Homo sapiens: one gene and its partners. The protein of the gene in region 1 interacts with the protein of each later gene in a pairwise test. Each region holds a gene or a part of one and is shown in the gene's direction. Other genes may lie near its edges. The genes, in order: CCNH, RHOH, CCT4, ZNF655, CDK6, GRIPAP1 and CCDC170.

Region 1 (3,500 bases):
TTCGTGTTTAGCACAGAGTCTGGCACATGGTATACATTCAATAAATGGTAGTGCTGCTTCTGCCATTCAGTTGGCAGCAGTGATCACAAATCATGGAATGGATACATGGTTATATCACAAATATGGAGTGGCTTTAGAGAGAAGGCTTATTGCCTTGCCCATGTTTTTTTGTCAGTATTTTTATAAGATTGGTTAATCTGTGAACGTTTGTATTTTTCTTCCTGAATTTATCTAATTCAGAACATTTTTGATAGTCTGATTTCTAATACACACACACACACACACACACACACACACACACGTATTTTTAAATCCAGTGACCATAGGAAGGATTAGCCAGAGTAGGCTGGGGATAGACAAGCAAAGGATGGGAAAGAATCTTTTGGCTATGGCATTTCTGTAGTAATTCATCACAATTTGTTTTGATTAAAGAAGAATTAATGAGTATTAGTATTTTTCTGGGTAATCTCTACAAAGAAACCTTTCCATAAATAAGTTCTGTTTCACAAAATTTAACATTTAACATTTGTGACTAGATCCTGATGATATATTTTTTTTAACCCTTAGGGTACGGCTTGTATGTATTTCAAACGTTTTTATCTTAATAACTCAGTAATGGAATATCACCCCAGGATAATAATGTGAGTATGTCTGTCTAATATATTGTTTTCATTTAAGAAGACCTTTATAATCTTTTGAGTATTTTTTGGGAGGAGAGAATTGTGAGAGAGAGAGAGAGAGAACTGACTTCCTAATACAGGGTAATTTAGACTTGAATTCTATTTTTTTTTTTTTATTCAGAACTTGAGATCTCTGTTTACCTGTACTTCAGTAATTCTGATGGTATGTGAACTTCAGCTTGTCCAGATTCAAATTTTGTTTTTCTCAAATTAGCTACTTCTCTAACATCTCTTCCTATTAGACACCTTTGTTCTTCCAGTTGTTCAGACTGAGAATCATTTATAGTGGCCCCTCCCACATCCAGTCAGTTTACGGATCCTATAGCTTCATACTCATTTCAGTTGAACAAAGGTCTGTTGTTGCTGCTCTCTGCTGAGCGCTGTGTCTATCATTAAAAATGAAATTAGTATGAAACTCATCAAAGAGTTTGCTCTCAATGACATTGTACCTGTTTTCTCTTTTTTGATTCCCATTTCCACCAGTCAAGATTAGGCCCTTGATCTCACTGCCAACTGTTTTTTACAGTAGCTTTCTTACTGTTTTCTCATACTGAACAGCATGAAGTGGCCAGGTGAATTTCACAAGTTTGTCCCTTAAATAATAGTCCCTTATTCAGATGCCCTTAGAGACTTCTGCCGATGGCCTTCCACAATGTTCCTTTAACCTACTTTTCTTCCCATACTTACATGGTACATATGTGGGTACTGCTTTATTTTTAACTCTTCCATCTACATTATACAAAGTACTCTTATTCCTCAGTTAATTTGTTTTTCCAGATATTTAGGTTGTACTGCATAACACTGTCATTGAGTCAGTGATGTTTGAATGCCATGGCAATATTGGTTTGACCTAATTTTATAGTTGTCTTACGTCTCCTAATGAAGTGTGAACAGGAAGTGTCTTTTAAAAAACAATTCTTGCAATGTCTAGCAGTCGCTTTTGAATATTAGGCAATTATAGAATATACTTTTAGAAATAAATTATTTAGATACTTCTCAAAGTATATGCATGTTCTTCCACCCCACCCACCCCCTGCCTCCTGCCTCCTTATTTTTTCCTCTAGGCTCACTTGTGCATTTTTGGCCTGCAAAGTAGATGAATTCAATGTATCTAGTCCTCAGTTTGTTGGAAACCTCCGGGAGAGTCCTCTTGGACAGGAGAAGGCACTTGAACAGATACTGGAATATGAACTACTTCTTATACAGCAACTTAATTTCCACCTTATTGTCCACAATCCTTACAGACCATTTGAGGGCTTCCTCATCGACTTAAAGGTAAACTTGATGTAAAATAAACTAATACTACATTCTCCTTTCCTATTCTTTAACAAAAGAATCCAAAATTTTAAAACTCATAATCATCCTCGTTGTTATAGCATGGATACAACCTGTGGGTCTGGCCTGGTCATCTAGGGCAGTTGTTTTCAAACTTCAGTGGGCATCATCAGTCATCTGGAGAAATTGTTAACTGAGATTGTTGGGTGGGACTTACAGAGTTTCTGATTTAAGTGATCTGCAATCTCATTTAAGTGATCTTCATTACATCCAGGGATGTAATGAAGACCATTGAGAGTTTAGAACGGTGCTTACTATAAAGGCTTAAGATAACTCTTCTAACTTTGAATTATATTGTCATGGATCTGGGCCTGATTTAAACCATAAAAAATTCTTAAACTAGAAGATTGCTAAGTGACTTATATTTTTAGAGGTTTGTGAACTTAAGTCACTATGTAGGCATCAATAATATACGTAAACAAACATTGACAAAAGCAACTTTTTTAAGTTGTTTTGTTTGGCTCTAAAAGAGAAGTTGGATAGTCTGAGTCGAATCAAATCAGGAATTGGTTCATTCATGTTAGATCAGTGGCTCAATTTGGGTACCTTCTATGTGCCAAACTTTGTGCTTGAGGATGTAACCAGAAATAGGACAGGAACAGTCTCAACTTTTGTGAACCTTACAATCTAAAGGTTTTAGACAATCATATATCCAGTGTGCTCAATGATACAGAGGGGAAAATATATTTTAGAGGGAGATAACAGATTAAGGGGTAAGGAAAACATTCTGAGAACGTATCATTTAAAATAAAATTCAGAGTAGGAATAGGAGAGAGAAGAACATTCCAATCAGAGACTTCCCTGGTAAAAAGCTCAAATTCAAGAAACCATTCCGTGCTGAAGAGCCTGAACAGAGCCTAGCAATGCAGGGGGAAGAGATCACAGACAGCTGCTGCCAGAGTGGAAGGCAGAGTCTAGACTGTGGAGACAATGTTACAGATTTTGAATACAGCAAAGAGAAGCTAGTGAAAGGTTTAAATTTAGAGAGTGGCATGATTAGATTTGCAGCTTTAAAAGATCATGTTGGCAACCTTATGGATCAGGTATTTATCGCGCATCTGTATGTGTCAGGCATAACGTGGAGAATGGATTAGAATAGATTAAGTCAATAACAGGGTACCGTTAAAGGAGTCCAAGCAAAAGATAGTGCTGGGCTTCACTCGTATGAAGGTTGTGGATACAGAAAGAGCTTCCTGGGCTTCAGAGATACAGGATGAGTATCCCTTATCTAAAAAATTTGGGACTAAAAGTACTTGGGATTACACTTTTTTTTTTTTTGATTTTGCAATATTTGCATTGTGCTTACTGGTTGAGCATCCCAAATCCAAAATCTGAAATGCTCCAATGAGAATTTCCTGAGTGTCATGTCAGTGCTCAGAAACTTTCAGATTTTGGAGCATTTCGGATTTTGAATTTTTTGGATTTGTGATGCTTAGCCTGTAGTTAGGTAGAATCAATAGAACATGAGGATTGATTGCATATAGA
Region 2 (4,107 bases), on another chromosome or scaffold:
GTGTGAGCCACCGCCACTGCACCTGGCCTCCCACAGAGGATTTTCTAGGAGATAATGTGCTCTTCAGAAGGCTCGAGGATCTCAGCTGGCAGATTGAGTTCTTACTGTGCATTAACAAATTGACACATGGGTTCATGTGGAAGTCTTGTGAACTTGGTAATTGGGTGTCTATTGATAAGAATGCTCACCTTGTACCATTGATTCCCTCTACAACTATGCTGCAAGCACAGTCATCTGCTTTCACTTCTTTGAACATGCCAACCTCTTTCCCACCTCAGGGCCTTTGCACATACTATTTGCCTCTACGTGGAATGTTCTTTCCTCCTTCTCATCCATTAGAGTGGCAGCAGTACTTTAGAATAATCAGAGGGGTTTAAAATAATATTGATGTCCGGTCCCAACCCAGCTCAATTAAACTCAAATCTTTGAGTGTGGGGCCGATGCACTGATAAAATAAAATAAAAGGCATGGAGTTGACTTTATCCTTACGGTCGGCAGGTATTTTGACCAAGCTATCACCGTGAGCAGTAGCATCAACAGTTAGTTATTCAGGGATTTGGGGCACAGGCGGTTGTGACCACATCACAAAAGTTCAATTTGTTGGGTTAGGCGTTTAGCCATAACCTAAGTAGTTGCAGATGGTCTCTACACCTGGATTGCCCATTAGGACAAAACAAGTAAACTTGTGTTTTTAGGCAAATAATGAAACTCTGAGGAGTCTGAAAAAACAACTCATCGCCAGGTAACTCCCAGCCCAGGTGCTCGTCCATACAGGGGTGAACGCACGGCAGGGGGCTGCTCGAACTCTCACTAAGCCTGCCTCTGTTCTTTGCAAAATATTTGATAGTTTTTAATGCAGCAAAGCGAAGCAGACAATCCACCTCTTGTTTTCCCCAAGCTGATGGGGGGAAAGTTCTAAGGTGTTGTTTCCTAAGCTCAAATTAACCAAGATTGGTCAGTGGCATGGACTTTTTTTTTTTTTTTTTTTGGTAATTTTACTTCCATGAGGAATCATTTGGACTCTTCAGTCTTCCTTTCTTCAGTTTTACGTAGGGCTTTGCTGGAGGAAAATGGGGCTAAGGGGGAGAGAAACATAGTCTCGGAGTAGGGTGGGGGATAAATTAAACGCAAACCCAGCGGTGCGGCAAAGGCCTTATTCTGCCTCTGATCTGGGGAAGTTTCATATTCTAATGGAGAGAAACGCACGTGCACACACACCCCCCTAAACCCACACAAATGAAACCCCCTCTGCGGAGAAGCCGGCTACAGGAAATTGACTTAGGCACAGGAACTTGCTAATCTCTTTTGTCACATTCGGATTGCTCCTGCTGCCCCACACACACTAACCCAACCATCTTGGGGTGGACTCCCTGCCAGCCCAACTGTTGTATTTTCAGTTCTTCCAGTGTGAATCAGTTAATATTCTCGGGAACGAGGGAGAGGTTGATCCTATGAGGAAATCAACCACAGTGAAAAGGCTTGGGCCGCTTTTGTTTTCACCTGCTTTTGTTGAACAAATTTGATTTCCGGAGTCAGTCATTTTACTGTCAAGACATTTCTTCGGCATTCTGCAACAGGTAAGGATTTTGCTTCCTTAAAAGTATTTCTTTGGTGTCAAAAGAAATTTTTCTAATTTTATTTAGCTTTTACTCTAGGCCAAACATCGTAATGACTCTGAGCTACCTGCTGTAAGGTGTAGAATCAATTTACAGGGGGACGGGGGTCGGGGGGGTGAGTGTTGCTTTGATATTCACTGCCCCTCACCACAGTCCTAACAAGATTTTTGAAACATGAAAAGTTACAATAGTTGGCTTTTTGGTTTTCCAGATATTCTAGAGAATGCATATGCTTGTGACTGTGGCTGAGCTCAACTGTATGGGTAGTTTAAATACTACCCAAGGTTTGATGAAGTAAATCTAAAGATGCTCTAAGTTGTGCAAATATGAATTTTAAAGTTGTCTAGTTCAGAAAAGAAACAGAACCGAAGTCTAAATGATGTAGATTTCAATCTGGAATTTCTAGCTTGTGTTTTTCACCTATTGCCAATGTTAATGACCATTTCCCAAAAGTGCTCTATGATGTATAACATGTATTTTTTAATTAAATTTAATCTTTCTTCTGAGGTGGTTTGATTTGGAGATATGCTACGAGGTACCAGTCAGTAGCCTGAGTTGTAACTAAACAAAGTTTGGGAAATCACCGGTTTTAGGTGCTTTACTAAATGAAAGTTGCCATTGACGTATTCAAGCAGGCAACAAGTAGTTGGTGTCCCCTTATTGGTTCTAAGCTGGTGCCGTGGAGGATATAAGAGAAATATTTTAAAAATCTCTACTTTGAAGGACCCTATAATCTGGTAGTTGTGATAAGAAGTAAAATTTAGGAAGCAATGCAAGATGAGAATTCAGTGATGAGTGGGGCAGCACAGGCTTGAAGAGTTCTGTGAATTCCATGGAGGGGGCCTGGGGGCAAACTGGAGTTGTCAGGAAGATCTGGGCTTTGGAAGAATGCGAAGTGTCGGTAGAAGGAGAAGGGGCAGGTGATTTCAGACTGGGAGGACCTTGTGGGCAAAGGCACAAAGGCGAGACTGACCTGGAGATGATAAGGCCAGTTGAAGAGACACTGGAGAAGAGAAGACAGTTTGTTTTACACATTGCAGGAAATCAGATTAGACAGTTAGGGTGTGGACACAAAAGCGAGGACCTTGCAGGCACTGGGGAGAAGTGACCCCATTCAATAGTCCTTGGTCTCCTTCTGCCCTGCGGCTGCGCTTCCTCGGCTCTCACGGCACCAGCAGAATTCCATGTGAGAGGGAGCTTGTCGAGCGTGGCCTCTTCCCACTTGGGGCTGCTTTCTGCATCCCTGTGCCTGGCTGTGGGCCTCCATTTGCCCTCTACTGTCTTCCCTTAGGACATCATTTATGCAGAGAAAGGTTCGTGTGGCTCGGGGTACCAGTAAGACCTCCACCTCTGGTTTCTTCATTTTAAGGAGGCCCTTCAATTATCCAGGAATTAAAGTGGCCTTCCTCTTGGGAGAACGAGTTGGTTGATGAATGATAAGCAAGTCTCTATTCCTCAAAAGCCAGTCCCCAAATTCCATGAAATATGTGCTACTTTCTTTGCATGTCTAAATGAGATGGCACGGGTATGCTTCTGTTCTTTTTCTGGACGTTGTTTAGAGAGTCAGTAGATCATAATAATTCAGACACTTTTTTTCTGGACCATAAAATATCTGAACCCATATAATAACAAACATACAGCACGGTGAATAAGAACCCAACTTTTGAGCCAGATCACTTTGCATGGAATCCCCATTCTATCATTCTATCATTTCTGGGCTGTGGGAACCTCAGACAAGTTACTTAACTTCTTCAATGCTCAGATTAAAAAAAAAATTCACAAAATATCTCTAATAACAGTAATAATAACTGAAAATACCTACCTCAGAGGGTTGTCGTAGAGATCAAATGAGATAAAAATATGTAAAGCATGTAGCCTAGTGCCTGACTGAAAAAAAAATCTCTCAATAGATGCAACTCTTATGATTCTTATTAAGGACTTGGCTATTGCCACAAATGAAGGTGTTATGAGCCCTGGCTTAAGAGCAAGAAGCCTGCAAAGCTAACTCTCCTAATCCCAACATTCCTTTCCAGGGAAAGTAGGGTGACAGGTGGAGGCTGGGAATTAACGTTTTTTGAGCACCAAATATGGACAAGGCACAGGGGTTGGGTGTTTTTCTAGTGAGAATACATATGAAAGAAGGAAAACAAACTTGGAAACCGCTATTTTAAGCCATTTGGTAACAGTTTCTCTAGCTTATGAGATGAGAGAGGTCCTCTCAGTATCCGCTGCATTACTTGTGGGCCTCCTTGGTTGACGTCGCTCTCTGAACGCTTGGGGTGGAATTCTAGAGGTGCTTTTCATTAGAGGCAGAGAGCATGACCTTTCTTCCTTGCCCAGTTTAAATTAAATTATTTTATCTTACAATGTGTTAATTTTAGTGCTAGCAAGGCACAGCTAAAATTCCATTTCTACTTAGGAGTGGGGATCATTGTGGCAGTGAGTGCTTATTTGGGTTTGGGATGCTTGGATCTGGGTGAAAGCCAGGATT
Region 3 (3,500 bases), on another chromosome or scaffold:
CACTTTTCTGTTTAATGCATTGTAACAGTGTTTTGATAAAGCTAGATATTTTAATTTGCCTATAAGAAACCTTTTCCTCCACCAAATCAGAAAGACTGCCATAGATTACTGGCAGTATAGCTAATTTTTATTGAATATTTAATATGGTGGGCATTGTGATAAGTTTTTTACATTTATTGTCCTCTTCAAGGCCCTCAGATAGTCATATCCCCATTTTATAGATGAAAAGAGTAGATCTAGAGGAGTAACTTATCCAAGGACCGCTAACAGAAACAGCTGAGATTTGAACCCAGGACAGGCTGCCCATCGTGGTCCATCCCTTAACTAATACTTATGCTGCTTTTCTTATTTACCAAACTTAAAGCGGTGTTGTGCTTTTAAATTTCTTTGGAACTCATGTCACTTGTTTTCTGTAATATCCTGTGTTTATCCCTTCCTTCCCCTAATCCTTTTTCCTTTTAAAAATCAGTATTAAGTCCATACATTCATTTTGTTTGAATGTTAGGTAGTGTTAGGGACACTAAGTGATACTGTTGGATGTCCTTAGAACTAATACAGATAGTATAGCGTAATGGTTACAAGCACTAGGCATTGAGTCTAGACTGCTTGTGTTTGTTCAGTACTGACTTCACCACTTAACTACGCTGTTTGGCCAAATGACTTAACCTCTTGGCTTCAGTTTCTCCATCTGAAGATTGAATGAGTTAATATGTAAAGTTCTAAGACCACTGCCTGGCATATGTTAAGTGATTGATAAATGTTAGCAATTTTTATCAACCCCTCATCAGGAATGTACATACATAACATTGATGCCTCATCACACATTCATTTTAGATAGAAAATACTCACGTAAAATTAAATTTATGCTTTTTGGATTTCCTGTAAAACTTTGATATTCTACAGTCCCGGCTATTATATTAATAAAAGAAAAAAGCAAGCATACATGTTTTTATTTTGTGCCCCTGGTGACAACCTGAATGGAAAAGACACTTTATGGACTGTCTTCTCATGAGTGTTTCCCTCTTCATACCCACACCCCACTGCAAAAATTATAAGAGTCTTTCTTAAGTATCTTTGTCATTGAAAAATTAGGACTTTTTTCTACTGTGAAGGTAACTTTTTTTTTTTTTTAATAATTCTAGGTGGTTTCTCAGTATTCAAGTCTGCTTTCTCCAATGAGTGTAAATGCAGTGATGAAAGTGATTGACCCAGCCACAGCCACCAGTGTAGATCTTAGAGATATTAAAATAGTTAAGAAGCTTGGGTAAGCATCTCTAATTACAACTTGAATAAAAATTTGAAAATGAGCATCAGATTGCCAAAAATAAATAAAAACACCTAGATGAAAGTCACAAAGCTCTCTTTTCTCTTTTTGGTTTTGTTTTCGTGAGAATTTGTATTAGTATGGGCATCTGGAGATTTTGTTTATGTTACCTTATGATAGTAAGGCAGCAGTGGATCAAAGAGATCCAGGAGTGGGGCAATAATAAATGTGAGGCTGAATCATATTTTATTGGACTGATGACTTTTAATCTGTTCATCTATTAAACGTACAGATGTCCACTCCCTCTTAACTACCCCTCTTTGTTTTCTTTTATCCTTAGTGGGACAATTGATGACTGTGAGTTGGTGGAAGGGCTGGTTCTCACCCAAAAAGTGTCAAATTCTGGCATAACCAGAGTTGAAAAGGCCAAGATTGGGCTTATTCAGTTTTGCTTATCTGCTCCCAAAACAGACGTAAGTAGAATCCAAATGAAATTGGTTCTCTGTGTTTAACTTTTTAATAACTCAGGCATTTCTTTATTAAAAATAGAAAATACTACTAGTGATTTAAAGCAGATCTCAAAAGACTTACTAGAATTGAGACAAAAATAGTAATTGTTGGTGCCACAAGTGACAAGTCTGTATCCTCAGTTGGGATATTGAAATTGAGAGCTAGCCATTTGCAACGATGCCTGTAGTCCCAGCTCCTTGGGAAATTGAAGCAGAAAAATTGCTTGAACCTAGGAGTTTGAGGTTGCAGGGTGCTATTCCATGACCTGTGAATAGTCCCTGCACTCCACTCCAGCCTGGGCAACATAGTGGGACCCCATCTTTTCACTGTTGCTGTTAATTTACAAATTCACACAGATTAGAGAGGGACCCTATCTTTTGAAAACAACTAGGGTAACCATTTTATATTTTTTGGTTATAAAAAATTTACTTGCAAAATGTAAGATACCAGTGTACTTAGTTGAAAATAAAAGACTCAAGTTTGGGATGTGTATCTTAATCCAGACTCTTTTCTATGCATGTCTATATAATTTATTACTTGATATAGTTTTGGTTGAATTTATACAACACATAGTATTTTCGCTTAAAATTCTACTTTTAAACTTAAAATATCTTACAATGCAAATTATGATGTTCTTTTTCTGAACAGATGGATAATCAAATAGTGGTTTCTGACTATGCCCAGATGGACCGAGTGCTGCGAGAAGAGAGAGCCTATATTTTAAATTTAGTGAAGCAAATTAAAAAAACAGGATGTAATGTCCTTCTCATACAGAAATCTATTCTAAGGTGTGGGGCTATTTATTTTGTTCATCCCTTAATGATAATTTTGGATCTCCACTAGCAGTTTATTTTTTCTGATAAAATATATGATTTAAGCACTTACTCTAAGTTCGTATTTCTTAACAGACAACTCTTAGGTGAAACGAAATGGAGAATTTTTATTTTAAAAGCACAGGTAAAATGTTAGGCCTCAATATTGTACCATCATTTGCTCAGACCAAGGGAAAAAATGGTATAAGTTCAGTTAAGATGTCTAGGAAAAGCATTTTAAACAAATATATGACTTGTAAATTCAAAACAATAAAGGTGTAATTTTCTTTTACAAAAAAAAGTAGGTTTTTTAAAATAGCCAACTAACTGCCAGAATGTTGTGTTTTGGCCTTTTAAAAAACTTATTTCTTCGATTATTGGCTTCAGGGTGGAGCCCTTAAGGAACAGGGCCAAGAAAGCATGCAGTTTTTAGAGTCTAAACCACACTTCTAATAGCAATTTTTTTTAATTTTTTTTTTTTTTTTTTTGAGACAGAGTCTCACTCTGTCATCCAGGCTGGAGTGCAGTGGTGCAATCTCGGCTCACTGCAACCTCCGCCTCCTGGGTTCAACAAGTGATTCTACTGCCTCAGCCTCCCGAGTAGCTGGGACTGCAGGCACGTGCCACCACACCTGGCTAATTTTTTGTATTTTTTGAGTAGAGATGGGGTTTTACCATGTTAGCCAGGATGGTCTCGATCTCCTGACCTCATGATCCACCCGCCTCAGCCTCCCAAAGTGCTGGGATTACAGGCATGAGCCACCGCACCCAGCCTCTAAGAGCAATTTTTATAGAAACATTTGAGTTGGGTAAACCACCAGAAATCTGCATTTTTTTTTTTAGCAGTATCATTATTTTTCCTTGCAGTTACAAGCTGGAAAAGCATTATTATGTTTTGATAAAAAGTGCGTAAT
Region 4 (3,500 bases), on another chromosome or scaffold:
TTTATTAATTTAACTTTTTAGGGTTGTAAGACTTTTTTTTTTTTTGAGACGGAGTCTTGCTCTGTTGCCCAGGCTGGAGTGCAGTGGCACCATCTCTGCTCACCGCAAGCTCCACCTCCCGGCTTCATGCCATTCTCCTGCCTCAGCCTCCCAAGTAGCTGGGACTACAGATGCTCGCCACCATGCCTGGCTAATCTTTTCGTATTTTTAGTAGAGATGGGGTTTTGCCATCTTAGCCAGGATGGTCTCGATCTCCTGACCTCGTGATCCGCCTGTCTCGGCCTCCCAAAGTGCTGGGATTACAGGTTGTGAGCCACTGCGCCTGGCCTCCAGATTGTATTTGTCACAGACATTAGAACGTTGGTCCTTTGCTTAAGTGCTTCCACTATGCAGCAGTAAATATACAGAGTACAAATAGCTGAGTAAAGAAGTCGGTAATAAGTAATTTTCGTTACCACATAATTGAAAAAAGAACATACTCCATTGATGATGAATGAACAATTTGCCTCTGGGTCACTATCCATAGGGAAGTTACCTGTTACTTAGTGTGGTAGATTAAGACCCATAAAGGGGACCGAGTTGCTTTTCACATGGGTAAGTGTGGCAGGTGCCCTATTAGATGATGGCCTCAGAAGCATGCTTGTTAAAATTCTAATTGATATTAACTGGGTCAGTAGATTGGGAATGTTTGGCACATACTCTCTGCTTTTTTAACTTGATGTCATGAAGGACTACAGTTATTTTGCACAGAATGTTTTCCATTGTCACAGCTATTTAGTATTTATTGAGCAGCCAATATGTTATTGGGTACTATATATATGTATGTATACACACACACACACATATGTATATACACACACACAGACATAGGACATTTATATGTGTGTGTGTGTGTGTGTGTATATATATATATAAAGGATATGTGTATATATCTCATTTAATCCTTACCATAACCCTGTGAGCAGATGACACTGCTCCTATTTTATATCTGAGGAAACTGAGGCTCAGAGAAGTTAAGTGATCTTTGCAGGATCAGTGAGAGGCTTGGGACCCAGATCTGCCTCTGAAGCCCCTGCACTTTTTCACTACTTTGTGCCCTTAGGACAATAAGTTCAACTACACATGGAGTTTTTAATATTTTTAGTGAGTTGTGTGTACTCTGATGACAAGAAAAATTCAAAATGCCATGACAAATTGGACAGACAGGCCAGTATATAGTTTGGGACCAGAAAGGACATGCATTCAAAAAGTAAAACTCTCTAGGGACACATTCCAGTCCAACAGGTATCTACAAAAGAATGATATTGCTAAGGAGAGATATTATTTGTGTATTAAGGACCAGGAAGAAAAGCGTGAAGCTTTCAGATGGCTAAAAGCATAGCCGTAGTAAAAGCAGCAAACCATATGATAAGGCAAATTTTAAATATTATTTTTGAGGCAGGGTCCCCTCTTGTTGCCCAGGCTAGAATACAGTGGCATGATAACAGCTCACTGCAGCCTGGACTTCCCTCCAGGCTCAGGTGATCCTCCTACCTCAGCCTTCTGGGTAGCTGGGACTATAGGCCTGTACCATCATGCTAATTTTTTTCTATTTTTAGTAAAGAAGGTGTTTCGCTATGTTACCCAGGCTGTTGAACTCCTGGGCTCAAGTGATCTGCATGCCTCAGCTCCCCAGAGTCCTGGGATTACACATGTGAGCCAACACCATGCTCAGCTTTAACTGTTATTTTTGAAGACCAGATTAAAATAAATTTTATTAGAAAACTCTCAAGATTTAAATAAAATAATTTTTTTTTTGGAGACAGTCTTGCTCTGTCGCTCAGGCTGGAGTGTGGTGGCACAATGTCAGCTCACTGCAACCTCCGCCTCTCAGGCCCAAGCCATTCTTGTGCCTCAGCCTCCAGAGTAGCTGGGACTACAGGCATGCACCACCATACCCAGCTAATTTTTGTATTTTTAGTAGAGATGGGGTTTTGCCATGTTGGCCAGGCTGGTCTTGAACTCTTGGCCTCATGTGTTCCACATCCAGCCTTAAAATCAAAAGGTTTTAATAACTTAATTTTAAACGGAAAAAATGTAAAGCAAGTGCATATTTTGAAAGCATAGAGTCGGCCAGGTGCTGTGGCTCACACATGTAATCCCAGCACTTTGGGAGGCCAAGGCAGGCGGATCACCTGAGGTTGGGAGTTCGAGACCAGCCTGACCAACATGGAGAAACCCCGTCTCTACTAAAAATACAAAATTAGCCGGGCATGGTGGCGCATGCCTGTAATCCCAGCTACTCTGGAGGCTGAGGCAGGAGAATCACTTGAACCCAGGAGGTGGAGTTGAGGTGAGCCGAGATCGTGCCATTGCACTCCAGCCTGGGTGACAGAGTGCAACTCCGTCTCAAAAAAAAAAAAAAAGCATTCACGTCAATGTCAAGAGAACCTGCTACTAATGCTTTCTTTGATAGGCAGTATGATAGGTTGGAAAGAATATAAACTGGGATCAAGCTTGGGTTCCACTTACCAGCTGTAGTATGTTGAGCAAATTATTTAATCTGACACTCATTTTCTTGGTTTATAAAACATGAAAAATAATGTCTACCTTCTGGGTACAGGATTGAATTAGATTATGCATATAAGTACCTGGCTTGTGTCGGGTGCGGTGGCTCACGCCTGTAATCCAGCACTTTGGGAGGGTGAGGTGGGCGGATCACAAGGTCAGGAGTTCGAGACCAGCCTGACCAACATGGTGAAACCCCGTCTCTACTAAAAATACAAAAATTAGCTGGGCATGGTGGTACATGCCTGTGATTGCAGCTACCCAGGAGGCTGAGGCTGGAGAATCGCTTGAACCCGGGAGGTGGAGGTTGCAGTGAGCCAAGATCATGCCATTGCACTCCAGCCTGGGCGACAGAGCGAGACTCCATACCCCCCGGCCAAAAAAAAAAAAAAAAAATTAAGTACCTGCCTTGTGCTAGTTACTTTAATATTTTGGAAAGAATAGCAAGCGATATGAGCCATAGACCAGATTTTTTAATACAAATAAAAATTTCAGGAGTGTGTTCAAATTATTTATTTATAGTGGAGTTTCCTCAAATTTATTATTGTTTGGACTATTGTCTAGGGATTTGGATTTTTTTTTTTTTTTTTGAAATGGAGTCTCCCAGGCTGGAGTGTAGTGGCGTGATCTCGGCTCACTGCAACCTCTGCCTCCCGGGTTCAAGCGATTCTCCTTCCTCAGTCTCTCGAGTGGCTGGGACTACAGGCACCCGCCATCACGCCCGGCTAATTTTTGGTATTTTTAGTAGAGACAGGGTTTCACCGTGTTAGCCAGGATGGTCTCGATCTCCTGACCTTGTGATCTGCCTGCCTTGGCCTCCCAAAGTGCTAGGATTACAGGCGCGAGCCACCGTGCCTGGCTGGGGTTTGGATTTTTATTGTAAAGGATTTCCATTTCCTTGATAATAAATCATCTTTTAGATCCCTTTTAATTTTTAATTTTAATTTTTTGTA
Region 5 (3,500 bases), on another chromosome or scaffold:
ATGGATCCTGTTTGAACAGCCTGAACTAAAAACAATAGAGATAAAATTATAGCATGTTTTGTCAGCAGTCTGTTCATTCACCAAATATTTACTGAGGGTCCACTATGTGCCAGACTCTTCTAGAAGGTGGGGATATAGCAATGAACAAGCCTGGAAAAGTCTCCGCACTTGTAGAACTTGCCTTGTAATGAGATGAGCAGTTCTTTCTTCTCTTTAAAAATTTACTCATCTTTGTTTTAATTGCCTTGTTTTGTTATACTTAACCTAACCAGTTTTATAGAACAACTGATATTTCTGATAATTCGGTTACCAGGAATTTCCTGATTGAGTAGGCAACATAACCAAAAGGCTAATCAGAATCAAGTGCTTTTTGAAGATTAAATTTTACCTCCCTAACATAGGGATTGATCTATATGAGATACTGACACATAGCTAATATAAGTGAACATTTGAGCTCCATTTATTCAAAAAGGATTTAGGAAGGGCATATGCTTTAAAAACCATGGGGCTAGGTGCTGGGAAAGATACCAGGGTAAATCATACCTAGCTACTCTCCTGAAGCAGTTCTTCCCATGTTTGAAGGAATAAGATGATCACCATAACCCTGATACATGATAGGATCATGTGCTGTAAGAAAGATACAAGCCAGTGCTTACCTGTATTGTTTCTAGGGATTATATTTATTAGTGTAACAGTAAAAGCAATTCAAATTCAAGTATTGGCTCTGGAAACTAAAAGTCATTACATATCAGTGAATAAACTTGTGATGTTTAAATATTATAATTAGAATAGTCACTGCTTTAAAAACAAAACAAAAAACCCAAAGAAAAGGCTGTAAAGCTTAATGATTATTCAAGGAGAGTTTTCTAATTTTCTCTCTTTTTTAAAGATCTTAGTAATATATTGCATAAAAGGTGAGTAAAAATGTGATTTTCTCTGGAAAACCTAATTGTTAACAGGGTAAAAGAAACATGACATATTTGACTCTGTAAAGCCAGGTCTTCAATTGGATTAGTTCATGAGAATCCTTCTGAATAAAATTGCTATTTGTGTGGTTGAATAATACATTTACTAGGGCTTTTTTCAATAAAAGCAGGAAAAGCAGGAGTTTAATTCTCCTTTTAAATATCAGTATGTTAAAAGTATGTTTGTTCTTTCTGTCTCTGAGAGTTCCTTGAAAAGTTTCTGATTTTTCAAGGTTGTTTAGTAAATAAACATTTTCACAATGGTATTCTGCTCATTTTTTGTTCCTACAGAAGAACTTGATAATGCTGAATTTTTGACATTGCAGTTATATCCCTTTTATACAACCACTATCAACATAGAATTATTAGAATCTCTCTATGGAATCAAGGACAAAAAAGGTCTATAAGAGGAAAACTTGTATAAACTTGAATATCTTTGAGGATATTTTCCTATGTTTAAGACATGGGTAAATGAATATCTATGCAAATAGGTTCCTATTAAAAATAAATTATTTCTTTTTTAAAAAAACAAATGTCTCACTATTAATGATTTCTTAGGAAAGTTTTTTAAGAAGGAAACACAGCATACATGCAGCCTATCATTGTAAAACCATGGATATTAGGGTTGGAAGACACTCTGGAGGTCAAGCTACTTGTCTGTCATGCCATTTTAAAGTTATTGACTTGTTCTTAAAACTAAGTAGCAATTTTTGTTTGTTTGTTTGATGGAAGCAGTTAAATCGGGTGAGTACATTTCTAGTTTGGAAAAAATGAACTGTATGTAGACAAAAGTGACAGTTTGCCAGGAATGAATGACATAACGATAAATGAATAAAAATTCAGTAAATTCCTGAATTCTGCAGTATGCCATACTGAAGTATATCTCTACAAGAGTATTATTCCAGTAAATTCTTCTTTTAAGGAAGTTGTGCTATAATTATGATAATTTAAATTAATTATAATAATTTAAAATAGCTATAGTTAAATGATGATACAGGTAAATTATGCAGGTAATTCATTAATAATATTGAATTCATTTTAGACAAAGAGGAGTAGGAAAAATTGAAACACTTAGTACTTGTCTGATGAATGAAATATTACATAATGTGGCTCTGGCACATTATGTAACATTCTGGTTAATGAAATAAAAACATCATAATACTTAAAAATTAGATGGCATAATAACCATCAGACACATAAGCAAATATGTGTTTTCCATGCCTTCTGAGGAACTAATCACACTATTGTTCTTTCTCATGAGGTTCAGATGAGTTGCTCTGTCTTCATAGGAAGTAAATTAATTGTGAGCTTCTTGATGTAACAGAACACAGCAGAGATGAAATCTGGGTGTCAGTGAATTGTTAACAGGAGAAGTTAGTGTGTATGATGTTGGGCTTTGTCCAAGATCCAGGAGGCAGCACTGAAAACGCACCGGTGGTTGATAACAAGCATACTTACATGAAGGTCACTATTTGAGTGATGATCCATAGATGCTAGGTTTGGTGGAGCAGGCAGGCCAGCAATCAGAGAGATTTTTCCAAGAGCTGCTGGGTAGTTTTCTTGAATATCACCAGTTTGCTGCCATACCTGATTTTTATTTTACCAGCTGCACATGTAGCTGCTCTTGCCTGAGAGGTGAACCGGAGGGACTGCAAGGCATGTGGCAGGAATCTATGCAAGTGTACAGTTGTAGTCTGGAAGTCCATTTGAGTCAGGATTATTATTAAACATTTTTGACCATCTCCTTTGTCTATAGTAGTTTGCCGAAATTTGGATATCTACTGGCTTTGTAATTTAAGTAGCCACTTAAATTATTCCTATTCTCTGGCCTTCCTAAAGGATTTAGTTCAGTAGAATTAGAATCACAGCATAAGGATTTTTTTAATTGGAAGAAGTCTTAGATTTAACCTAGTGCAACCCCCTTTGATCTGTTTTATAATAATAAAATTTGAGTTGTTTTATGAATGCAAAAAATTATCTCACTGTTAGTGAACAGTTTTATTCTGTGATTGTATGCATTGTAGATATAAACTGATTGAGGATGGCTAAGATTCAGACAGAGGTTTATATTAAACATTGGTAAGACAGGATGACTGATGGTCATTGGATATACCAGAAAAAAATCCCTTGAGATGTAAAAGTATTTTCAGTTTAGTGACTTTATGTTTGCTGACTTGAGAACCAGGATTGTGTATTTTATATCCATAAATAACATGGTGTCCATAACCATTGGTTAACCCGTATATGTTTCCTGATTGATTGAAATTTTAAACCCCTTAGATAAGCACTTTTCATCGTTTTAGAGTTGTATACTGCATTAGCAAGTATCTTGGACTATTGACATTGGGAGATCTGTGGGTATTAACTGTAAGGCATACACATGTGAAGTCTATTTAGTAAGAGTCTTCAAATACTTACTCATATTTAAACTTTTCCTGACTATGCATTTTTTATCTTCAATATTGTACTTGCTTTGGCTTTGACAGGATATTCTCATGTTCTTCCTCTGTATTTGTTAACATGTATCCTACAGAC
Region 6 (3,500 bases), on another chromosome or scaffold:
AATTAGCCGGGTGTGGTGGCACGTGCCTGTAGTCCCAGCTACTCGGGAGGCTGAGGCAGGAGAATCGCTTGAACCCGGGAGGCGGAGGTTGTAGTGAGCCAAGATTGCACCACTGCACTCCAGCCTGGGCGACAGAGCAAGACTCTGTCTCAATTTAAAAAAAAAAAGTTTTATATCCACCCTGTGGCCCTGCTTTGCCTTAGCCTCTACCACTTATCATCTGCTGTTTCTACAGCCGCCTCCCTGGTCTCTTCACTTCTAGTTTCTTCTACTTAGTTCACACCACAGAGGCTGTTCTGACCTGCAGATCTTATGACATCACTCCTTTACTTAATACATTCCAGTGCCCCAGTCCTGCTCCTAGTTCAGAGCCCCTGGTATTCACATAACTGCTGGCTTCACTGACTGACTCCTCACTGCTTCCTGCCTCCAGCCTCCATGGTATCATGATTCTTGCAGAGTGAGGCAGGGGCAGACATTCTTCCATAAATCCAGCTTGTTTCCCTGCATCTGCCCTGGGCCAGCACTGGGCTAGTCGTAGAGACTTCCTACATAGTCCCCTTCCTCCTCCAACTCCTCCCAGGAACTGGAAGTGCTCTCAGAGAGAGCTACGTTAAACCTGCCACCACCCCTTATTCATCAAGACATTTCAGCTTAATTGTTCCTTCGACAAATAGTTACTGAGTACCCACCACATGCTCTATGTTCTGGAAATACAGTTGTAAGCAGCACAGAATGATCTCCACTCTTGGGTAGCTTACATTCTGGGGGTGGGATGAGGAGAAAGATGATAACAGTAAACAAATAATACTAGTAGTGATAGCTGACATTTATATGGTGCTTACTGTGTGCCAAGTCCTGTTTGAAGTACTCTACATTATTCACTCATTTAATCTTTGAAATAAGCCTATGAGATATTAGTATCCCTATCTGACAGATGAGGAAAACTGAGTTCCAGGGAGATTAAGTAATTTGTCACACAGCTAGTAAATGGCAGAGCAGAAATTCACATTCAAGCAGTCTGGTTTCAGAATCTGTGCTTGTTACAAAAGAAAATTTTGATTAGTACTAGGTAAGAAAGAAATGAACAGTGCTGTGACAGAGAGTACTGGAATTTTCTGTGTTGAGGGATACTACTTTAAAGGCAACATCTGAGCAGAGCACTGAGGGATGCAAAGAAGCCAGTTAGGTGAAGAACTGGATGAGAGGATTGGTGTTCTGGGTAGAAAATATTGCAAGCAGGCCGGGTGCGGTGGCTCATGCCTGTAATCCCAGCACTTTGGGAGGCCGAGGCAGGTGGATCACCTGAGGTCAGGAGTTCAAGACCAGCCTGGCCAACATGGCGAAACCCCGTCTCTAATAAGAATACAAAAATTAGCCGGGCACGGTGGCGCATGCCTGTAGTCCCAGCTACTCAGGAGGCTGAGGCAGGAGAATCACTTGAACCCGGGTGGCGGAGGTTGCAGTGGGCTGAAATCGTGCCACTGTACTCCAGGCTGGGTGACAGAGCGAGACTCCATCTCAAAAAAAAAAAAAAAAAAAAAAGAAAGAAAATATTGCAGGCAATAAAATAAAAATTCTCTGTAGGCCTCGATATTCTCATCTGAAAATGGGGACAAGGAATTTTCTCAGGACTGCTTTGAGAAGTGTACTTCAGCCAGGAGTTGGGCAGGGGGCTGGCTTAGTTGTATTGGCATTGTATACCTCTCCAAGACTAACGGCTGGCAATGCAGGAGCTGTCATCAGTGTTGGCCCTGGAAATGCCCTGCGAGCTCTTTGTGGTGCTTAGGATGAGAGGGAGCTATCTCTGGGCCCAGGATCCAGCCCTCCACAGAAGAGGGGTTGCAGTGAGGCTGTCTGTAGCACTAACAACTTCCAGAGGAGCCTGAGGTCTTGGATTGCATCTCTGAGGTTGGGAGTAGGAAGAGGAAAATGGTTTTTGGTGTCCTCATACTTGGTATGCTCTTGGTATTCTCTGACTCTGCCACTTAAAAGATGTGTGAATTTGAACTTGTTTAACATCTCTGTGCCTCAATGTCCTTATTTGTAAAGTGGGAGGGCACCTATATCATAGGGTCATTATGGGAATTAAGTGAATTGTAAAGTACATGGACAAATGCTATGTAGGTTTCAGCAAATACTGCTCTGATTCTCTGCTTCTCTGCCCCTTCTCTTCCTCTGTTCAGCTCTGCAGCCAGATGGAACAGCTGGAGCAAGAGAACCAGCAACTGAAGGAGGGGGCTGCAGGAGCAGGGGTTGCCCAAGCTGGGCCCCTCGTGGATGGGGAGCTGCTGAGGCTACAGGCTGAAAACACAGCCTTGCAGAAGAACGTGGCAGGTGCATAGAGGCCCTCCTGGGGATGCGGAGACATTGGGGCTTGAGTAGGGCAAGGAAGGCCGTCATCCTCTCAGGGGAAGGAGAAGGGCTTCAGAAATAGGGTTGGCCCATGCCCTGTGTGGCTTTGGACAAGCCATTTCACCTCTCTGAGCCAAAGCCTTATCATCTACACAGTGCATGTAGTGATGTCTGTCACCCAGAAGATTGTAGTAGAGATAAAAGGTGATATCATTCTGCATTAGTTCAGTGTCTGGTACCTAGCAGATGTTACAGATTAGCAGCTTGAATGTCAAAAAGGAGATATTTGCGGCCGGGCGCGGTGGCTCACGCCTGTAATCCCAGCACTTTGGGAGGCTGAGGCGGGCGGATTGCGAGGTCAGCAGATCAAGACCATCCTGGCTAACATGGTGAAACCCCGTCTCTACTAGAAATACAGAAAATTGGCCGGGCACGGTGGCGGGCGCCTGTAGTCCCAGCTACTCTGGAGGCTGAGGCAGGAGAATGGTGTGAACCTGGGAGGTGGAGCTTGCAGTGAGCCGAGATCACACCACTGCACTCCAGCCTGGGCGACAGAGCGAGACTCCATCTCAAAAAAAAAAAGGAGATATTTGCTAAGTGAAAAAGTGAATGGAGTGTTGGGAAGATTCTGAGCCCAGATTGTAAGTGGGGTCTGGGATGAAAGCTGAAAGAAAGCTTGATAGAGTGTGGGAGCATGTGGTGTGTGGAACTTTGGAGAGCAGCTGGGACTTCTGTGGTGATGGATGCTGGTTCCATGACCAGGAGGGAGACTTAGTAGAATGTGAGTAGGAATTAGGAGGCTCTAGGAGGGATTCAGCTGTAAGTCAGTGGTAGCATATGGTGGGCATGGCCTTCAAGGGCTATGGGTGGGGCTTCAAGGATTGAGAATGGGATTTGTGAAACCAGCTTGGGCTAATTTAATAGTAAACAGAATCTTAGTGGTTGATAGGGCTTAAAATATTTGTGAGAGCCTGGGCACAGTGGCTCATACCTTGATTCCAGCACTCTGGGAGGCTGAGGCAGAAGGATCTCTTGAGGCTAGGAGTTTAAGACCAGCCTAGGCAACATAGCAGGAACTTGTGTGTACTAAAAATAAAATAATTAGGCCAGGCACGGTGTTTCACACCTGTAATCCTAGCACTTTG
Region 7 (3,500 bases), on another chromosome or scaffold:
TTCCATCAGTACTTCAGCCACCATCTCAATAGTCAGTGTTTTGAGAATCTGTAGGAGGGACAGAGGATACAAAAATGAATTGGAGATTGACCCTGCTCATAATGAAGAATTGACAGTTTACAATCCACTTTGGGAGGCAGAGGTGTGTGGATCGCTTGAGCCCAAGAGTTTAAGACCAGACTGGGCAACATGGCAAAACCCCGTCTCTACAAAAAACACAAAAAGTACCCAGGCATGGCCTGTAGTCCTAGCTACTTGGGAGGCTGAGGTGGGAGGATCACTTGAGCCCAGGAAGTTGAGGCTGTTGTGAGCCTTGATCGCACTACTGCACCCCAGCCTGGGCAACAGAACAAGACCCTGGCTCAAAAATAAAATAAAAATTAAAAAAGAGTTTACAATCAAGAAAAACAGACACATAAAAAGATTACTCCTTCATCAACACTAAAATTTAATGCTGCACTCTTCTCAAGTTGGATTTACCTATAATGCGATCACCAGCACAGCCTTACTGGGATGGAAAATGTGACAAATACTAACAGCAATATTATGAGAATTGAAGTGGAGCAGCCCAAACATGAAGGAAAGAGATATGCTTTGGGGGAAGTTTACAAACATAGCTTTCAGTAAGACTGCATAACTTTGTCATGCATTTGAAATAACGCTACCCAGTGAAAATGTGCTGGGTGCGGTGGCTCATGCTTGTAATCCCAGCACTTTGGGAGGCTGAGGCGGGAGGCTCACTTGAGGTCAGGAGTTCGAGACCATCCTGGCTAACATGGTAAAACCCCGTCTGTACTAAAAATACAAAAAGTAGCCAGGCTTGGTGGCAGGTGCCTGTAATCCCAGTTACTGGGGAGGCTGAGGCAGGAGAATTGCCTGAACCTGGGAGGCAGAGGTTGCAGTGAGCCAAGATTGTGCCACTGAACACACCATCTCAAAAAAAAAAAAAAAAAAAAAAAGAAAAGTGACCTAATTATAAAATAGGATCACCAGTCAGCAAAAAGCTGTAGCAATAGTTCTGTGGAAAGTGCTTGGATTCCAAATCCTCTGACACCAGTGAGAAGCCACAGACATATGGTGGCTTGTAGGCTCTCTTGCTGTGGCAGTGTTTTCACATACCTGGAAAACCTAGATCAAAGTTACAGCTCCAGTAGATACCATTGTTGGGAATTTGAGCATCTCTTTCCTTTCTGTAAAACAAGGGTTAATTAGAATAACTATCAACAGAATTGTTATGAGAAGCAAATGTAAATAGCAACACACTCTATCAGCAGCTATAGTTCCTCAAAACAAAGGACTTAGAGCTGGTCATAGCTAACTATAAAGGAGTTAAAGTCTGTTTTCCTTTTTCTTCCCATCATTTCTACTTTTAAAAACCTCATATAAAATACATATAACATAAAATTTGCCATCTTAACTTACAAATGTACAGTTTAGTGGCATTAAGTACATTCACATTGTTGTGCAACTGTTGCCACAAGCCATCTTCAAACCTTTGTTCATCTTGCAAAACTGAAACTCTGTACTCATTAAGCAATAACTTCACATTTCCTCCTCCCCACAGCTCCTAACAACCACCATTCTACTTTCTTTCTTTATGAATTTGACTATTCTAGGCATGCTGTATAAGTGGAATCAGACTGTATTTAACTATTCTAGGCATGCTGTATAAGTGGAATCAGACTGTATTTGACTATTCTAGGCACGGTGTATAAGTGGAATCAGACTGTATTTCAGTATTCTAGGCACGCTGTATAAGTACAATCAGACTGTATTAAACTATTCTAGGCATGCTGTATAAGTGGAATCAGACTGTATTTGACTATTCTAGGCACGCTGTATAAGTGGAATCATACTGTATTTGACTATTCTAAGCACTCTGTATAAGTGGAATCAGACTGTATTTGACTCTTCTAGGCACACTGTATAAGTGGAATCAGACTGTATTTGACTCTTCTAGGCACACTGTATAAGTGGAATCAGACTGTATTTGACTATTCTAGGCACGCTGTATAAGTGGAATCAGACTGTATTTGACTATTCTAGGCACTCTGTATAAGTGGAATCAGACTGTATTTGACTATTCTAGGCATGCTGTATAAGTGGAATCATACTGTATTTGACTATTCTAGGCACGCTGTATAAGTGGAATCAGACTGTATTTGACTATTTTAGGCACGCTGCATAAGTGGAATCAGACTGTATTTGACTCTTCTAGGCATGCTGTATAAGTGGAATCAGACTGTATTTGACTCTTCTAGGCACACTGTATAAGTGGAATCAGACTGTATTTGACTCTTCTAGGCACACTGTATAAGTGGAATCAGACTGTATTTGACTCTTCTAGGCACGCTGTATAAGTGGAATCAGACTGTATTTGACTCTTCTAGGCACGCTGTATAAGTGGAATCAGACTGTATTTGACTATTCTAGGCACGCTGTATAAGTGGAATCAGACTGTATTTGACTATTCTAGGCACTCTGTATAAGTGGAATCAGACTGTATTTGACTATTCTAGGCATGCTGTATAAGTGGAATCATACTGTATTTGACTATTCTAGGCACGCTGTATAAGTGGAATCAGACCGTATTTGACTATTTTAGGCACGCTGCATAAGTGGAATCATGCTGTATTTGACTATTCTACGCACTCTCTCTGTATAAGTGGAATCAGACTGTATTTGTCCTTCAATGACTGGCTTATTTCACTTAGCATAATGTCCTCAACGTTTCTTCATGATGTAACATGTATCAGAATTTCCTTCCTTTTTAAGCTTGAAATATATTCCATTGTATGCATATGTCATGTTCTGTTTATCCATTCATCTGTCTCTGCACACTTGTGTTGTTTCTATCTTTTGGCTGTTGTAAATAATGCTGCTATGAAAATGAGTGAACCAATATCTCTGTGAGACCCTGCTTTCAATTTTGAGGGATATATACCCGAAGTGAAATTGCTGGATCCTATGGTAATCCTATTATTACTTTTTTGAAGAACTGCCACTGTTTCCGTAGTGGCTGCACACATTTTACATTCTCACCAGCAGTGCACAAAGGTTTTCATTTCTCCACATCCTCACCCCCACTTGTTATTTTCTGTGTGTTTTCTTCCTTTATTGTAGCCTTTCTAATGGGTATGAGGTAGTATCTATTTCCACTTTTTAAAGAACCATTTCCTCCCTCTTCTGGTTTGCTCTGTTTTTTTTTTTTTTGTTCTACTCCTTTTTCTCAAAATCAAGTTTAAGAAGAGATCTGACTCTAGTTGCATGTCTTCATATGAACTTAAGTCAGAAGCCTTCTCTAGATATAAAGAAAACCAATCTCCACCCCACCACCCCCAAAAAGAGAATATAGAGAAAAAGAAACAGAAGGAATAGGGAAAAAAGAAAACATAAATTATAGTTGAAAGAAATACAAACATATCAGTAATTATGATAAATATATATGGAGAAAATGCTTAGTTAACTAAGAAAAGCCATATTGCATTAAAAAAATCTAA

The links.
Region 2: the proteins of CCNH (region 1) and RHOH interact in binary tests that used the Homo sapiens proteins (3 or more experiments, as listed by UniProt).
Region 3: the proteins of CCNH (region 1) and CCT4 interact in binary tests that used the Homo sapiens proteins (3 or more experiments, as listed by UniProt).
Region 4: the proteins of CCNH (region 1) and ZNF655 interact in binary tests that used the Homo sapiens proteins (3 or more experiments, as listed by UniProt).
Region 5: the proteins of CCNH (region 1) and CDK6 interact in binary tests that used the Homo sapiens proteins (3 or more experiments, as listed by UniProt).
Region 6: the proteins of CCNH (region 1) and GRIPAP1 interact in binary tests that used the Homo sapiens proteins (3 or more experiments, as listed by UniProt).
Region 7: the proteins of CCNH (region 1) and CCDC170 interact in binary tests that used the Homo sapiens proteins (3 or more experiments, as listed by UniProt).

Annotation. Positions count from the first base shown.
Region 1 is NC_000005.10:87,406,431-87,409,930, reverse strand, and holds part of CCNH (cyclin-H), read left to right. Parts: intron 1-567; coding exon 568-641; intron 642-1,744; coding exon 1,745-1,955; intron 1,956-3,500. UniProt on the Homo sapiens protein: Regulates CDK7, the catalytic subunit of the CDK-activating kinase (CAK) enzymatic complex. CAK activates the cyclin-associated kinases CDK1, CDK2, CDK4 and CDK6 by threonine phosphorylation.
Region 2 is NC_000004.12:40,195,724-40,199,830, forward strand, and holds the start of RHOH (rho-related GTP-binding protein RhoH precursor), read left to right. Parts: upstream 1-1,307; 5' UTR 1,308-1,577; intron 1,578-4,107.
Region 3 is NC_000002.12:61,875,157-61,878,656, reverse strand, and holds part of CCT4 (T-complex protein 1 subunit delta), read left to right. Parts: intron 1-1,142; coding exon 1,143-1,264; intron 1,265-1,604; coding exon 1,605-1,737; intron 1,738-2,422; coding exon 2,423-2,562; intron 2,563-3,500. UniProt on the Homo sapiens protein: Component of the chaperonin-containing T-complex (TRiC), a molecular chaperone complex that assists the folding of actin, tubulin and other proteins upon ATP hydrolysis.
Region 4 is NC_000007.14:99,565,142-99,568,641, forward strand, and holds part of ZNF655 (zinc finger protein 655), read left to right. Parts: intron 1-3,500. UniProt on the Homo sapiens protein: Probable transcription factor.
Region 5 is NC_000007.14:92,826,574-92,830,073, reverse strand, and holds part of CDK6 (cyclin-dependent kinase 6), read left to right. Parts: intron 1-3,500. UniProt on the Homo sapiens protein: Serine/threonine-protein kinase involved in the control of the cell cycle and differentiation; promotes G1/S transition. Phosphorylates pRB/RB1 and NPM1.
Region 6 is NC_000023.11:48,992,265-48,995,764, reverse strand, and holds part of GRIPAP1 (GRIP1-associated protein 1), read left to right. Parts: intron 1-2,186; coding exon 2,187-2,337; intron 2,338-3,500. UniProt on the Homo sapiens protein: Regulates the endosomal recycling back to the neuronal plasma membrane, possibly by connecting early and late recycling endosomal domains and promoting segregation of recycling endosomes from early endosomal membranes.
Region 7 is NC_000006.12:151,497,017-151,500,516, forward strand, and holds part of CCDC170 (coiled-coil domain-containing protein 170), read left to right. Parts: exon of another isoform or gene 1-48; intron 49-1,119; exon of another isoform or gene 1,120-1,190; intron 1,191-3,500. UniProt on the Homo sapiens protein: Plays a role in Golgi-associated microtubules organization and stabilization.